Regions from separate parts of the Homo sapiens genome. Here region 2 is linked to region 1. The links come from fine-mapping of genetic effects on gene expression. A gene starts in region 1. The other region holds a variant in brackets. All regions are shown on one strand. Distances are between the middles of the regions. Region 1 holds the start of OR2B6 (olfactory receptor family 2 subfamily B member 6). Region 2 holds the start of H2AC14 (H2A clustered histone 14).

Region 1 (8,344 bases):
TAAAATTTGGGTGTTTTGAGCACTTATGGACGTTTATGATTATCTCACTCAGAAAAATTTGACTAAGGCTCCAGTTTCTTAATTCCATTTATTTGTTTTATACTGCTATTTGCAATGTTTTGTTATCTCTACTGGAAATTAAAACTTGAGAGCAGAGCAGTCTTAGATTTGAACCTTCTGTCTGCCTATGAAAATAATCTAGCCTATGAAAATAATCTCTCTGAACCTCTAAATTCAGATTTCTACCTGAATAATTAACCTTTTGTGAAACAGACAAAAAATATTGGCAAACTTTTCATCTATTCTAAGCCAAATTGCACTGTTGTGTGAAAAATTACTCCTAGTATTTATCCTTATACTCCAGCAGGAACATGGGGGTTCACTGTAGTATATTTAAAGCTTTTTATACATTCTCAGAGGTATGATAATTATAGAAAACTTAGAAGCAAACAATTTTTATGTCGAATGGAAAACAGAAAACTCTGGTGTTACCATAGATTAAACTGCTTCCCAAAGCCATTGAGTAACTTGCCCAGTAGTGAAGTGACTTAGTAGCAGCATCTAAACTACAGCTGTTGTCATATTTCTTATCTCAATGCTCACTGCATAGTAAACAGCTTAAAATAAAGTTTTCAGGACTTTGTTGAACCTCGTCATTCAGAATCCTCTGTCAGCCATATACTGAATAACTTCAGTATGTAGCTGATGGATGCAATCCCAACTAATATACAAGCAAACGGGTGGTGATTGTATTTATTCAGACAATAAAATTGAAATATCCTGAGTTATGTATAGATAAAAGTTCTAAAGGTCCAAATAACCCTTTTCAACTGTTGCTTTTTACAGTACTCAATTTTGTTTTTGCTTTGTTTGTTATGTTTTGTTTTGAGACAGGGTCTCTGTTGCCCAGGCTGGAGTGCAGTGGTGCGATCATGTCTCACTGCAGCCTCAACCTCCTGGGCTCAAACAATCCTCCCACATCAGCCTCCTGAGTAGCTGAAACTACAGGCGCATGCCACCACACTCAGCTAATTTTGTATTTTTGGTAGAGACAGGGTTTTGCCATGTTGCCCAGGCTGGACTGGACTCAAGCGATCTGCCTCAGCTTCCCAAAAATGCTGGGAATTCCCAGACTCAAGCAATCAGCCCCAGCTTCCCGCTGGGATTACAGGCAGGAGCCACTGTGCCTGGCCCAATACTCACTTTTTCTTACCTGCAGTTGTAAGATAGTTGCTATGCAATCTGATCCCTTTTGTCTCACATTATGAAAATATGTTCCTATGTTGACCAAAGGAAAGCTCGTTAACTCAAAATGAGAATGATATCCTCTGAAGATGCTGTAAACAGAATTCTATTCAGGACCAGAGAAATAGATTGTGTAGCCTTTTGCGATCTCAGCCATGACTGGGCACCACCATCAGCACAGGTGTAATCAGGTAAATAATTGGTTATGCTATCTGCGAGGATTTCAGAGATACAAGATTCCTACTTGTTTCCATTGTTAACAAGTCCTTCCAATCCAATGATAGTGATAAGAATAACAATTCAAATTACTTGAAACTTCTGTGTGCAAGATAATATTTCAACTTTTTTTTTTTTTTTTGAGATGGAGTCTCACTCTGTTGCCCAGGCTGGAGTGCAGTGGCACTATCTCAGCTCACTGCAACCTCCATCTCTCAGGTTCAAGTGATTCTCATGCCTCAGCCTCCTGAGTAGCTGGGATTATAGGTGTGTGCTACCATGCCCAGCTAATTTTTGTATTTTTAGTAGTGAAGGGGTTTCACCATGTTGGCCAGGCTGGTCTTGAACTCCTGACCTCAGGTGATCCACCCACTTCAGCCTTCCAAAATGCTGGGATTACAGGCGTGAGCCACCACACCCAGACAATTTTTCAACTTTTTAACAAAAGTTCTCTCTTTTAGAGTGGATATGTAAAGAGGTTACTGGATATTTGAAAGATGGGGAAATTTTGCCCCAAAAGTTAGCAAAGCAGAATATAAGAATGAGTTGTACTACAGTCTCCCCAGTACTTTTGTTCTCATGCAGGAGAAATTTGGGGCAAAATTTCCCTCACTGCTGTGGATCATGGACATTACCTATAACAGAAGTGCATTTAATACTTTTGTAATTGCTGAACCTCAGTGAGAAAGAGTAGAAGTTAATTGAATTCCTCCCTTCTAGAATTTTCATTAGTCAGGGCTTCTTGGAGAGTTTGTTTTTGGCTGTATTCTAGCAGAGAAATGCCAGATACAGGGCTGGTCAGGGAAAGCCACTGGCCCAAGTAAGGAGAAAGCATATGCAGTGTCCTCAGTGATGAGGTATCTCTTGAACAATAATTTGAAAATTATTTTAGTCTCCAATATTACAGCTAGAGAGACCTTATAACTTATCACCCAAACATGAACTCTTTTGAAGACTGAAGGGTTCTATTAGTAATTGTGTCAGAACAGCAGGAGTAAACTCGCAGTCCTGTGCAAACTGAGATATGCAGTGACCCTAATTATATAGACTGAGGGTATTTTCCAACACTTGTTAATTCAAGGAAATTGTGAACTTGTGAAATCTCTTTTTATGGATTCCATTTGTTCTGCTTTTCAGAATTCCTATAATGAGTGGCAACTCTTTTTGATTTTTTTTTGTCAATAAGATGCCGAATGCCCAATGCCCTTGCATTCCAGTCTTTAGAAAATGTCCATGTAGATTAATGTAGATCCTGTTTTAAAAATTTGTTGAGATAAAAGTCTAAATTCATATAAGATTGTTTCAGTTATAAAGTCTAAAGCAATGCTTGTCTTTATAGTAAAACATACAGTATGAATATGTCCTCACTTAAAGTTATTATATAATACATAATAATCTTTATTAATAATAAAAAGCATTATATTTGTTAAAAATTAGAAAAAGCAAGGATAAAGTTAAATATCAAAATCTGATTTTTCTCCCTCTTTCCATTTCCATTCCCCAGAAGTAACAGCTTTTAACACTTCTGTATACTTCCAGGTAATTTTATACATATATGAATACTGACCAATATGATTATATTCCCTTATGTAAACACATGGAAGCATGCTAAATACATGTTCAGAAACTTGTTTTTTTCCTTAAGGATTTGAATGTTTTTGTACATGTATATCTATATCTGAATTTATATCTATACCACATTCCTAATTTTATTGACAGCTGCATAGCATGTCAATAATATGCAGCTGTCAATAATATGCAGGGACTCATTTGAGAGGCTATAAAAGCTTTCCCTGCCATTTTATACTGAGAACTGTAGAATAAGTGAGCAAAATTGAAATACATATTGAATAATAGTTTAAAATTTATGATCCTATCCTTAAATTGACATTTTTACACTAACAAAATTATAATAAAACAATAGAGGGTGGTGGTAGCAAGATAGATGATTTGGAAATTTTTAACTGGTAGCATTGACTTATATTAGTACTTAGCAAATTTAGGGCTCTGAACAGCCTCTGCCCCGAATGTCTCAGAGTTCCTGTGTCATATGATACTTTCATTCACATTGCTGTGTGCCATTATACCAGGTAATTTACATTAAAGATCACATTTATACTTCACATCAGATAGTTATTATTATCTCTGTTGTTAAAGTTGATGGTATTGGAGTTGTGGAGAGAACAAGATAAATATTACCTCACAGAGTCATTTTTTATTGGCAACCCCAGGACATTTAAAGTTCTGAAAATCATACATAATTTTTCTCTGAGCATCAGAAGATGACTACAGTTCCTTTTGTCTACACTTTGTACCACTATCCCAGGAAGGTATTATTATACTCATTTTATAGGTGAGGAGCTTGAAGCTCACAAAGAGTAAGAAACATTCCCAGGAGGATGTAACTAATGACTTATGTAGTAGGGACATGGACCCAGACTTGTCTGCCTCCAAATTCCATGCTACTAATATCTTTTTATTCTAATTTGATAAGGTCTTAGAAGGCAAAAGATGTTTCCCTGAGATGTGTCTAATAGCTTGCTACAGCCTATATGCATAGTTTTTGAGGCGGTCTAAATAATTTTAATTGTTTCACATCGTATGTTCCCATTCATAAGTGGGAACTAAGCTATGAGGAATGACACAATGGACTTTGGGGACTGGGGGGAAAGGGAAGGAGGGAGCTGAAGGATAAAAGACTACACATTGGGTACAGTGTTCACTGCTCAGGTGGTGGGTGCACCAAAATCTCAGAAATCACCACTAGAGAACTTATTCATGTAACCAAACACCTCCTGTTCCCCAAAAACCTATTGAAATAAAAAAAAATTTAAGAAACTAACAAATTGTTTGTTTCAGATGACAAGGCAGTTTCCTTAACATTGAGAAATTAGAGTGAAAAAAATGTGTTAGAGATTATGACCGAATCTAATAATAGCTATCTATGTGGACAGTATTACAAAAATTAACCAAATGACAAAAAATCAAAGAAGAAATTTTGTGAAAGTTGTTTAAAATCAGGAATCTACTTTTTACATTTTAGCTTTCACTTTTGCAGTGATGATACAGATATAGAAAGATTAAATTTTAGAAATACTTTGGTAATTATGAGCATTTTCAACTGTATATTTTTCATGTAATAAAACAAGCAATATCAATTCTGTAAATATCTTCAAACAGGTAGTAAAATGACTATAAGTAACTGAAATAGTTAACAAATATGTGTTAATTGACTTCCTGAATTTTTCTGTTTCAGGAAACCAAGAGTTGAAACATTAATCATGAATTGGGTAAATGACAGCATCATACAGGAGTTTATTCTGCTGGGTTTCTCAGATCGACCTTGGCTGGAGTTTCCACTCCTTGTGGTCTTCTTGATTTCTTACACTGTGACCATCTTTGGCAATCTGACCATTATTCTAGTGTCACGCCTGGACACCAAACTTCATACCCCCATGTATTTTTTTCTTACCAATCTATCACTCCTGGATCTTTGTTACACCACATGTACAGTCCCACAAATGCTAGTAAATTTATGCAGCATCAGGAAAGTAATCAGTTATCGTGGCTGTGTAGCCCAGCTTTTCATATTTCTGGCCTTGGGGGCTACTGAATATCTTCTCCTGGCCGTCATGTCCTTTGATAGGTTTGTAGCTATTTGTCGGCCTCTCCATTACTCAGTTATCATGCACCAGAGACTCTGCCTCCAGTTGGCAGCTGCATCCTGGGTTACTGGTTTTAGTAACTCAGTGTGGTTGTCTACCCTGACTCTCCAGCTGCCACTCTGTGACCCCTATGTGATAGATCACTTTCTCTGTGAAGTCCCTGCACTGCTCAAGTTATCTTGTGTTGAGACAACAGCAAATGAGGCTGAACTATTCCTTGTCAGTGAGCTCTTCCATCTAATACCCCTGACACTCATCCTTATATCATATGCTTTTATTGTCCGAGCAGTATTGAGGATACAGTCTGCTGAAGGTCGACAAAAAGCATTTGGGACATGTGGTTCCCATCTAATTGTGGTGTCTCTTTTTTATAGTACAGCCGTCTCTGTGTACCTGCAACCACCTTCGCCCAGCTCCAAGGACCAAGGAAAGATGGTTTCTCTCTTCTATGGAATCATTGCACCCATGCTGAATCCCCTTATATATACACTTAGGAACAAGGAGGTAAAGGAAGGCTTTAAAAGGTTGGTTGCAAGAGTCTTCTTAATCAAGAAATAAGAAATATGCAAATGATAAGCTTTGCTAAAGACAAAATGTTTACTTAGCTTACTAACTTCTCTGTAAGTTGCCCTATTTTTGTTGTTACTGTAGAGAACAATGTAAACTCCCTCAAATAAAATTTCCTTGATGAAGAGCTATATTTACTTCTGTTGCCTTAATGTTTTCATTGAACAAGCCCCCAGAATTGACCTTCCAATTCACCAAAAATTGTAATCACAACATCTTCAAGGTTTGTCAAACATCCCATCAATGCTTGTACAATTCAATGTAAATTAGATCCGTAGAAAAGCCAGAAGTTCTTTCTCCAATATCACACACACACACACACACACACACACACACACACACTAGTTAAACGAGGCTCACTGAAACTCTCAAACCCCACCACTTCAAATTTGGATCTGAGGTTAACAATTCTAATTTTAAATTTTCCACTCCCGCATCAGCATAAGGAAATCTATAATAATTTTTATTCTAAAATTGTAACCAGATTTTCCATTTTCTTACCATATTTCTGTACTCATGTTTTTCCTACTAAATGAAGGCATTCTTTTTACTTCCTTTGCAAATCAAACCCTAGATATTTATTAGGTCCAGCTAATTTTCTTTTACATGAATTTTTTTTCATAATTCTCCCAACTATCAATATTATCTACCGTTCTCTTAAACCCTAAAGCACTTAACAGCTTAGATTCCAAAATAGCACATTATGTAATGATTTCCAAAGAGTTCTTGTTTAGTACTTTTGTCTTGCATAATAATAGTCTAATTATATTTTATTCTTGAGGGTACAAAAACTATACCATACATTTTACCACAACACCTTTAGAAGTCATCATAGTGCTGAGGAAGTAGCATGCATTTACATTATTAGTTGATTCTTTTGATTGTTGAGTGATTCATTTACATTATAATAATTTAACAACCTTGCTACCCTTCTTTATCCATTGTTTTCTTCTACTAATGCATTATACATGTAGAAAATACAATAGCTTAAAATATATTTATCATGTTTCTTATGAAAACCTACAGTAACTCCATGTACTTTTGCCATAATAAAATGTTAACAGAGAAATAAATCTGGTTTGCCAAGTTCTGACTTCAGTTTTCTCTCCTAATAGGGATAATTATCATAAAAAACATACATGGAAGCAAAATACTGATAAAGTATATTTAAAGCTTAAGACAATAATTTTCTCACTGAAAATTAATTCATTGCTAAAGGTCCAAATAAATGACAGATCAGATTACTGGAGACAAATGTGTATCTCAAAGCCAATGTCAGTGTAGTTTGGTGAATTATGAGGACATAGAAGAGAAAACAGAATTCCAGAAATTGAAATAGTTAATTTTTAAATTGAGAGGTTAATTGATTTAATTAATTTTATAATTGTAGATTTGGTTTTTAACTAGTATTTATATTGGTGTGCTGGTGTATAATTTTATACTGGTAACTTCTGTAACTAAGCTATTATCAGTTACCTTGAGAATATAAAAAATATATTAATTATTCATATAGAACAAGACATATTAAACTATCTCTCCTTTTTTGCAATTCTGAGAAATTTATTTTTCTAATACAAACCACTTTTAAGTTTTTAAGTGGTTTGTATTTTAAGGAGAATGTATTTTGGATTTTTTTTATACTTGTAGTAAAATATACATAAAATTTGCTAGTTTAACCATTTTTAAGTGTACAGCCAGTGGCATTAAGTGCATTCACATTGAGCGTCAATCTCCAGAATTTTTTCATCTCCTGAAACTAAAACTCTGTACCCATTAAACAATAACTACCCATATTCCATATTCTGTCCCCACCAGCCTCTGGTAACCACTATTCTATTTTCCATCTATGATTTTGAATACTCTAGATACCTCATATGAATGAAATCATAGAGTGTTTTTGCTTTGTGGGTTATTTCACTTAGCATAATGTCTTTAAGGTTCATCCATGTTGTAGCATGTGTCAGAATTTCTTCCCTTTTTAAGACTGAATAATATTCTATTGTATGTATATACCACATTTGGTTTATCTATTCATCAGTTGATAGGTACTTGAGTTGCTTTCACCTTTTGGCTATGTTGAATAATGCTGCCATGAATATCGGTGTATAAATATCTGTCTGAATTCCTGCTTTCAGTTATTTAGGGTATATACCCAAAAGTGGAATTGCTAGATCATACAGTAATTCTACTTTTAATTTTTTGACAAACTGCTATACTGTTTTCTGTAATGGTGGCATCATTTTTCATTCTCACCAACTGTCCACAAGGGCTATAATTTCTCCACATAGCTCATTTTAATAAAGTTAATTTTTATAAAGTGTTTTGTGATATCTATTTTATGACATAGAGAATAACCAGAAAATAGTAGAATTCTATTTGTTCATATCTATTTCTATATGCTCACTCAAAAGTTGATTAATGGAAATTACTCAAGAAGAGAGGTTTTATTGTATTAGGACATAAATATTCAAATATAAGAGCAATCGGGTCCAACCACCAATGGTAAACTAAATCTAGGGAATAAAACAACATCATATTTTGGAGGCTGAGGCAGGAGAATCACTGGAGCCCAAGAGTCAAGGCCAGCCTGGGTAATATAACAAGACCCATCTCTAAAAAAATAAAAAATAAAATTGAACATCAATGCAAAA
Region 2 (8,344 bases), 140 kb before region 1:
CTTCCTGGTACTTGTTTTGCCTGTAGTAGATAGGGCCCATTTCCAGACGTTATACAATCTGTTTCGTAAGACTCAGCCTATCCCTTTTTGAATGCTAATTTTGGGAGTCTTAACATCTAATAATGTCCGGCATTTTTCCGTAAGCATTGAGTGTAGCCAAAAGTTCCTTCGTGTATTGCTCTCCCATCTCCGCAGCCCGGTTTTGACCGGATGGTGCTTCTAATTTTCTGCTAACCTGTACTGTGGTGTGTGTATATTTCTTGCCAACACGCCAGAAATAAAACTAAGGTTGTACTGAAGTTGGAAAAATTCAGGTTAATGTAGCTCATGCTGGCTAAAGTGAAACGTTCTCTCCCCGCCCCCCGTTCCTAAGCAGTGTTAAGTTTTCTTTGAATTTTTTCAAGCCGGATTTTGGGCCTGCTTAAACCACTTAAATGTAGTTAATGACAGATGGTTTGAGGTTTAAAAGTCTTCTGGAGAAAGCCCGCCAGAGAACATTCCCTTTGAAGCCCCATGTAAAAATACGTGTGGGAGAGAAAGTGTTTTCTCTGACTTCTGCTGACAGTGGCTAAAACTCTGAACTGTCAGGAGTATTCAAAATAAGACTGCCTTGTAGGTAAGCCTGTGGTAGTTTTTTTGAGCACAGGATAAAATACTTGAGTCTTTGCTTAAATGTTACTTTCTCAATGAGGCTTTGTATGACTAAATAAAATCTGTATAATCCCCACCTATTTTTTTCACCCTAGAATTTGTCACTATATGCTGTACCAGAGTTTGCTGATGTATTGCTTGTGTGTTCTAAAATACAGGCTCATGAGAGGAGGAACTTTTGTTTACTCGCATATCTCCAGTAACGTAGGAGCTTTTGATCAGTATTTGTTGGATAAATGAATGAATGCATGGGTATATAATAGTAAGGAGACATACCCACATGGAAAATCTCAAATGAAAGAAATACATCAGCTTGGTAGATATGCTCAAATCAGCTTCTTGTGGGCCAGGAAAGCCCTTACCTCATCCATTCTTGTATTCAGAATGCTAGATTTCTATAACTTCTTCTGTGAGCTCTCTAGCATTCTTATAAGTATTCAAGATTTTCCCTGGCAAATTGGCTTGTGTATGTGTGTTATCATCTCTGTCTCTCCTTAGCTTAACCTGTGAAGGATGTAAGTGGAAAGATCATAGTATTTTTACACTGAGTTTTAAAAAGCAGTTTTAATTCTCTATCTTGTTTCAGTTGGCTATTTATGTATCTTCAGTTATTAGAATTGGTTACATTCTTAATACACTTTTTTGGAAATTTGATATCAAGATCACTACTGCAACATTCACAATCTGCTCATCCTCATTTTCTTGTGTGTGGGTTCATGATTTCATTATTTCCACATATATGGAATTTAGAAAGATAAATAATTTATGATTAATATTTTACAAATTAAAATAATGCTTTAATACTTTTAATTGGAATCAACACCGTAAGCAAAACAAAATAGAGTTTTTCCCCTCTCAGAAATTAGCTTTCTTCTGGAAAGGAAGATACACTATTTTGGAGGGAAGCAGTGCCTCTAGGACACTTAGGGGCCCAACTGCTAAACCGATGGATATTGTTGAGTGTGTAAATAGTGCATTCCTTCTTTCTGTGCTGGGAAACTAAGAGCTAGTAATAAATCAGGAAGGGCTCACACAGAGACTGCCTGGTATGTACTAATCAATACTCTTGCTGGCTGGGTAGGGCATCCTCTCCTGGAGATATGCAGCCAAGATACTCCCAGTTAAATTTCCAGTTATAATTACATGAGGAATTATTTATTTAAGGGACAGTGAGTAGTTCTAGTTATGTGGAAATGAATACTCTATGTCTTTTCAAAACACTCCATGTACTGAATTACAATAGTCTGGTAACCATCCAACTCAGCTCATTTGTCAGGAGTTCATGACCAGCCTGACCAACATGGTAAAACCCCGTCTTTACTAAAAATACAAAAAATTTAGCCAGGTGTGGTGGCATGTGCCTGTAGTCCCAGCTACTCTGGTGGCTGAGGCAGGAGAATCGCTTGAACTCGGGAGGTGGAGGTTGCTGTGAGCCGAGATCACGCCACTGCAGTTCAGCCTGGGCAACAGAGGGAGATTCCATCTCAAAAACACAAAACAAACAAAAAATAAATAAATTTAAAAAAAAGGACATAATTCTTGTGTCTGAATTTCCTGAGATGGCAAAACTCATAAGTGGCATAACAATCCTTTTCAAGGCCCAAAATAAAAGGACCTTGATATGCCCATACAGAAATATGGACAACAGGCCGGGCGCGGTGGCTCATGCCTGTAATCCAAGCACTTTGGGAGGCCGAGGCAGGTGGATCGCTTGAGTCCAGGAGTTGGAAACCAGCCTGGGCAATGTGGCGAAACCCCATCTCTCCAAAAAATAAAATTAGCCAAACGTGGTGGCGTGTGCCTGTGGTCCCAGATACTCAGGAGGCTGCGTTGGGAGAATCGCTTGTGTCCAGAAGTTGGAGGTTGCAATGAGCCGAGATCGTACCACTGTCCTCCAGCCTGGGTGACAAAGCGAGACCCTGTCTCAAAAAAAAAAAAAAAAAAAAAAAAAGATAACATGAGGAACTGACCTCACTATTCTCAAAATAGCCTTTGGCTTTTCTCAGAAGAGATATTTTTTTCTGAGTGTAGGTATTCACCCACTAGTGCTCTTGGAATCAATAAGTATTCAGAACCAACCTTACCATCGAACATCACCAGCTTGGACTACTATGCTTGGCCATCTACTTATCCAGCAGTTACTAAGTATTTAACTCACTTACTAATTGTAAGTGTTTACAGGATACATTTGTAACATAACACCCAGGTACAAAAAGGTTAATTACATACAGAATTAAACAGAAAAATATCAGAACACATACAATGAAGTTAACTATTATTAACATGTGATTTCAGCAGTACACTAACATAAATACATGTAATTATTGGGTCACTGCCGAACATGTATATGTTTGAAAGACCCTTAATTAGAAAACTTCTAAGGCCAATTTTTTTTTATTCCAAACTCTTGTAAGTGCAAAAATTAAAAATAGAAAACAAAACATGACCAATGTATACATTGGTAAACATAAAACTGTCTGGTTTTGTTTAAATATACCCATTGAGCAGCTCCTTTCCTAGAGGCCAGGAAATAGGGCTGAGGACTCTACCCTCAGTTTTCAATCTAGAGACTGTGAAACTGTAGAGAAACACACTGTCTAGTAGCAATCCATATACTTTTTCTAGTAAGCATATTAAAAACCGAATACTATACTATATTCCTTACAGCCCAGTGAGTTTCCCAGAATCATAAATAAAACCCACCAGTACCTACTATGTAACTCCCAGTAAGAGGCTTTGACTTTTGTCAAAGTTGTGTCCCAGTAAAATGCCTTCAAGATACCACAAACTGGCCTGGCGCAGTGGCTCACGCCTGTAATCCCAGCACTTTGGGAGGCCTAGGCGGGTGGATTACCTGAGGTCGAGTCAGAGACCAGCCTGGCCACCAAGGTAAAACCCCTGAAAACACGTGTTAGCAAACGTACCTTGTTAGTATCTACATTAAGAAAAAAAAAAAAAAAAAAAACCTTGAAATTCAGGCAATGTAAACAGGTTAAAGATTAACACCGAAACATCATGAGTGTACTGTGTAGTGGTGAAGCAGCTGAAAACGGACTCGTGTCATCTTTTTATGATTGTTGAAGTGGCTCTGAAAAGAGCCTTTGTTTTTATGCGCTTTTCAACTCGGTCTTTACTTAGTCTTGTGGTGGCTCTCAGTTTTCTTTGGCAGCAGCACGGCCTGGATGTTGGGCAGGACGCCACCCTGTGCGATGGTGACTTTGCCCAGAAGCTTGTTGAGCTCCTCATCGTTGCGGATGGCCAGCTGGAGGTGACGCGGGATGATGCGAGTCTTCTTGTTGTCGCGGGCCGCGTTGCCAGCCAGCTCCAGGATCTCGGCGGTCAGGTACTCCAGCACCGCCGCCAGGTACACCGGCGCTCCAGCACCGACCCGCTCCGCATAGTTGCCTTTGCGGAGCAGGCGATGCACTCGGCCTACGGGAAACTGAAGCCCGGCCCGAGAAGAGCGGGTCTTGGCCTTGGCGCGAGCTTTGCCTCCCTGCTTACCACGCCCAGACATGGCAAAAG[G/A]TCTATTACCTTTACGGTCAAGAAAGACTGAAATGAAATTGGAAAAACGTACATTTTATAGCCTCTACTGGGCGCGAAAAGGAAGCTGTGCGATTGGCTTACGTTTTATTTTTATTTAGACCAATAGGACTCGAGTATGCAGGATACCTATTTTGATTGGGCAAAACTGGCATCTGACGTCATCCACGGATAATCACCAATCAGCACTGACCTATTCTACTCCTAATTTGCATAATAACATTTAAATAAAGAGGACGAAACAGCCCTAAGGTTGTCTTTTATTTTGTTTTCCACCATGCCTGAACCAGTCAAATCTGCTCCAGTCCCTAAAAAAGGCTCCAAGAAGGCCATTAACAAGGCTCAGAAGAAGGATGGAAAGAAGCGCAAACGCAGCCGCAAGGAGAGCTACTCTGTGTATGTGTACAAGGTGCTGAAGCAGGTCCACCCCGACACCGGCATCTCTTCCAAGGCTATGGGAATCATGAACTCCTTCGTCAACGACATCTTTGAGCGTATCGCCGGAGAAGCGTCACGCCTGGCGCATTACAACAAGCGCTCGACCATCACTTCGAGGGAGATCCAGACGGCCGTGCGCCTACTGCTACCCGGGGAATTGGCCAAGCACGCCGTGTCCGAGGGCACCAAGGCCGTCACCAAGTATACCAGCTCCAAGTGAGCCTCTCGCTGCAGTAACAGTTCCGCCGTGACCCACACCCCAAAGGCTCTTTTCAGAGCCGTCCACGTTTCTCAAGAAAGAGCCAGTTCACTGTTAAGTTTGTCTCCCATTAGGTACCCTTTGGGACTCGCTTCGTACATATAAATGTACTTGTATATGTGGGTTTTTTTTTGTTTTTTGTTGTTGTTTTTGAGGTGTAGTCTCACTTTGTTGCCCACCCTGGAGTGCAATGGCACGATCTCGGTTCACTGCAATCTCCACCTTCCGGGTTCAAGCGATTCTTCTGCCTCAGCCTCTCGAGTAGGTGGGACCACAGGCATGTGGCACCAGGCCCTGCTACTTTTTGTATTTTTAGTAGATACGGGGTTTCACCACGTTGGCCAGACTGGTATCGAACTCCTGACCTTAGGTGGTCCACTTGCCTCGGCCTCCCAGTGTTGGGATCACAGGTGTGAGCCACTGCGCCCGGCCCAAAATATTTTAAAGAGGATTATTAGCAACTATGAGTGACCGTGGCTTAGGGAAGACACAATCCCCCGAGACCATGAGAAAGTGGTTCTGAGGCAGTCAGAATGCAACTGTTTTGTACATTTTAGGGAAGCAGAAGTTATAGGTAAAGTCATAAATAAATATGTGGAGGGTTAGTCCAGGCGTGGTGGCTCACGCCTGTAATCCCAGCACTCTGGGAGTCAGAGGCGGGCGGATCACTTGAGATCAGGAGTTTGAGACTAGCCTGGCCAACGTGGTGAAACCCCGTCTGTACTAAAAATACAAAAAATTAAACGGGTGCAGTGGCACGTGCCTGTAACACCAGCTTCTCGGGAGGCTGAGGCAGGAGAATCGCTTGAACCCGGGAGGCAGAGGTTGCAGTGAACCGAGTCGTGATCGCGCCACTGCACTAACCTGGGCAACAGAGCAAGACTCTGTCTCAAAAAAAATCAGGTAAATCAAAGAAAATGAACTGGAAAAAATAATTGCTCTTAATATCACTGTGAATACCTAGTGAGTGTTCTGTAGATGTGTTACAGTTAAATTGCCAGAAATATTCTAGTTATGTTTAAATCAATTTTTAAAATTGTGAGAAAACTCAGATACCTGGAAGGATTCAAAAGGCATCTGCACTGAGATTGCTTTTCCAGAGCCTTTGAATCCTCACACTTCTTTAAAGAAACCCAACCTGAAAAATACTTTCTAACATATGTGTGATTTATGCTAGGAATTTCCAATTTAGGATTCCATTCAATAAATTATCAAAACGTTAGCAAAGACATATACATGTTAATAGATTAAGTAAGAATAATACATTCAAAGAGTGAAGCATATTTAAATAATTCCCAACTTTAACTTTAACTTTTGGTTGTCTATTGAAACTGTAGAATCCAAAGGAAAACTTCCCCTTTGTCCTCTGAAGGTTTGGTGAAAAGTCAACTCACAAAAGGCAGATTAATAGGAGAAAAGGCATACAAATTTATTAATGTGCATGGGGGAGAATCAGTGATTACTCCCTCCCCCTCCCCCCCACGCCCCATGCAATAGAATACAGATGATTACATACCCTTCTTCTCAGGGAAAAGGGAGTTGGGGAAGTGTGGATGATTTTACAGGGGTATTAAGTGATTTTTAGGGGAATTCAATAGGCTTGAATAACATAACAGCCTAGGACAAAGTCTGTTTGGCCCACAGACCAGACAATGATTTGTGGCAAAGGTTTGTCTCCGTGTGTTGACAGACTTCAGTCTTCTTGCGATATGAGTTTTCAGTTAATGAAAACTCAGAGAAGAGACCAGAGGTAATTGTTTTCTTCTTTGGCAGGTCTATACTTTAGAGAGATAAGGGAATTTCAGAGAACAACTTCATTCTCTGCTTTCAGATAGAGAAATGAGAGAGAGGAATAGGGGGAAGGTCCGAAAGACCTTGAGTACTCTTCTTCAGTTCAGTATGTCAAAGCTCCATATTTTGGGGAATCGGTTTCTGAGCCCGAACAATACAATCTCATTAGATGAAGCATCTATTCTTGATACAGGAGTATCATGTTAGAAACAAATTAAAGCTCAAAAGATTTTTTTAAAAAATTAGGCTGAGTGCGGTGGCTCATGCCTGTAATCCCAGAAATTTGGGAGGCCAAGGCAGGCAGATTACTTGAGGTGAGAAGTTTGAGACTATCCTGGCTAACATGGTGAAACCTCATCTCTACAAAAATACAAAGATTACCAGGGTGTGGTGGTATGCGCCTGTAATCCCAGCTTCTTGGGAGGCTGAGGCAGGAGAATTGCTTGAATCCAGGAGGCAGAGGTTGCAGTGCGCTGAGATCACACCACCGCACTCCAGCCTGGTGACAGAGCAAGACTACATCTAAAAGAAAAAAAAAAATTAGGAAAATACTATCCAGAAATCTTGGCAAAATTGTTTATGATTATTATTTTTGAGACAAGGTCTCACTCTGTTGCCCAGGCTGGAGTGCAGTGGCACAATCATGGCTCACTGCACCTTGGCTTCCCCAAGCTCAAACAATCCTCCCACCTCAGCCTCCTGGGTTGCTGGGACTACAGGCACAGGCCACCACCCTGGGCTAATCTTTGTATCTTTTTTGGTGGAGACAGTGTTTCACCATGTTGCCTAGGCTGTTCTCAAACTTCTGTGCTCAAGTGATCCTCCTGCCTTGGCCTTCCAAAATGTTGGAATTACAGGTGTGAGCCACTGTGCCCTGCCCCTATTTTTAATTTTTAATAGAACAAAACAGAATTTTGGGGTCGACACAATCTTTATATGTATGTACAGTCATTTTAGAAGAGATAAAATTCACATTTTGGTCACAGAATACTTAGCAAAACAATATTTAAAAGTTCTTTATTGAGTTGTTTTACCCATACACTAATTGATTTTACTTTCCCCATGCACTTGGAGAACTCTAACCCACTGTTATAGCCTATTGTGTAAGCCAATATTGGAGGTGTTGATGACTATATCTTGTTTTTACAAGTCATGTGGAGTGCAGACTGGGTTTCATTTTTTTTCCCCCTATAGTGCCTAGGTCAATGGTGACCCTACAAAATAAGGTGAATATAATGTGTCAATGTAATATAATGTACATCTTTATGAAGGAAATAAAAAAAATGGATATAAAAACAAAAAAAAAGCTTTAATTAATTAATTAATTAATTTTTGAGACAAAGTCTTGCTGTGTTGCCCAGGCTGGAGTGCAGTGGTATGATCTTGGCTCACTGCAACCTCCGCCTCCTGGGTTCAAGCAATTCTCTTGCCTCAGCTTCCCGAGTAGCTGAGATTACAGGTGCCTGCCACCATACCCAGCTAATTTTTTTTGTATTTTTAGTAGAGACAGGGTTTCACCATGTTGACCAGCCTGGTTTCAAACTCCTGACCTCAAGTGATCTGCCTGCCTCGACTTCCCAAACTGCTAGGATTACAGGCGTGAGCCACTGCACCTGGCCAAGAAGCTTAAATTTAAATGAGACAGAAATAGCACAGAGGCAT

What was found. PIP is the estimated chance that this variant, and not a neighbour inherited with it, causes the effect.
Region 2: its variant is fine-mapped to the expression of OR2B6 in whole blood (TOPMed, PIP above 0.99).

The regions. Positions count from the first base shown.
Region 1 is chr6:27,952,499-27,960,842 of GRCh38, forward strand. OR2B6 (olfactory receptor family 2 subfamily B member 6) reads left to right here and starts at 4,743. Exons shown (of 1, transcript NM_012367.1): 1 at 4,743-5,684. The coding sequence starts at 4,743. The coding sequence ends at 5,684.
Region 2 is chr6:27,810,573-27,818,916 of GRCh38, forward strand. H2AC14 (H2A clustered histone 14) reads right to left here and starts at 4,205. Exons shown (of 1, transcript NM_021066.3): 1 at 3,730-4,205. The coding sequence starts at 4,168. The coding sequence ends at 3,782. H2BC14 (H2B clustered histone 14) reads left to right here and starts at 4,450. Exons shown (of 1, transcript NM_003521.3): 1 at 4,450-4,917. The coding sequence starts at 4,472. The coding sequence ends at 4,852. RefSeq lists enhancers at 1-488, 3,839-3,988, 4,679-4,798, 4,909-4,968, 5,059-5,108. The variant G/A (reference allele first, on the strand shown) is at 4,177.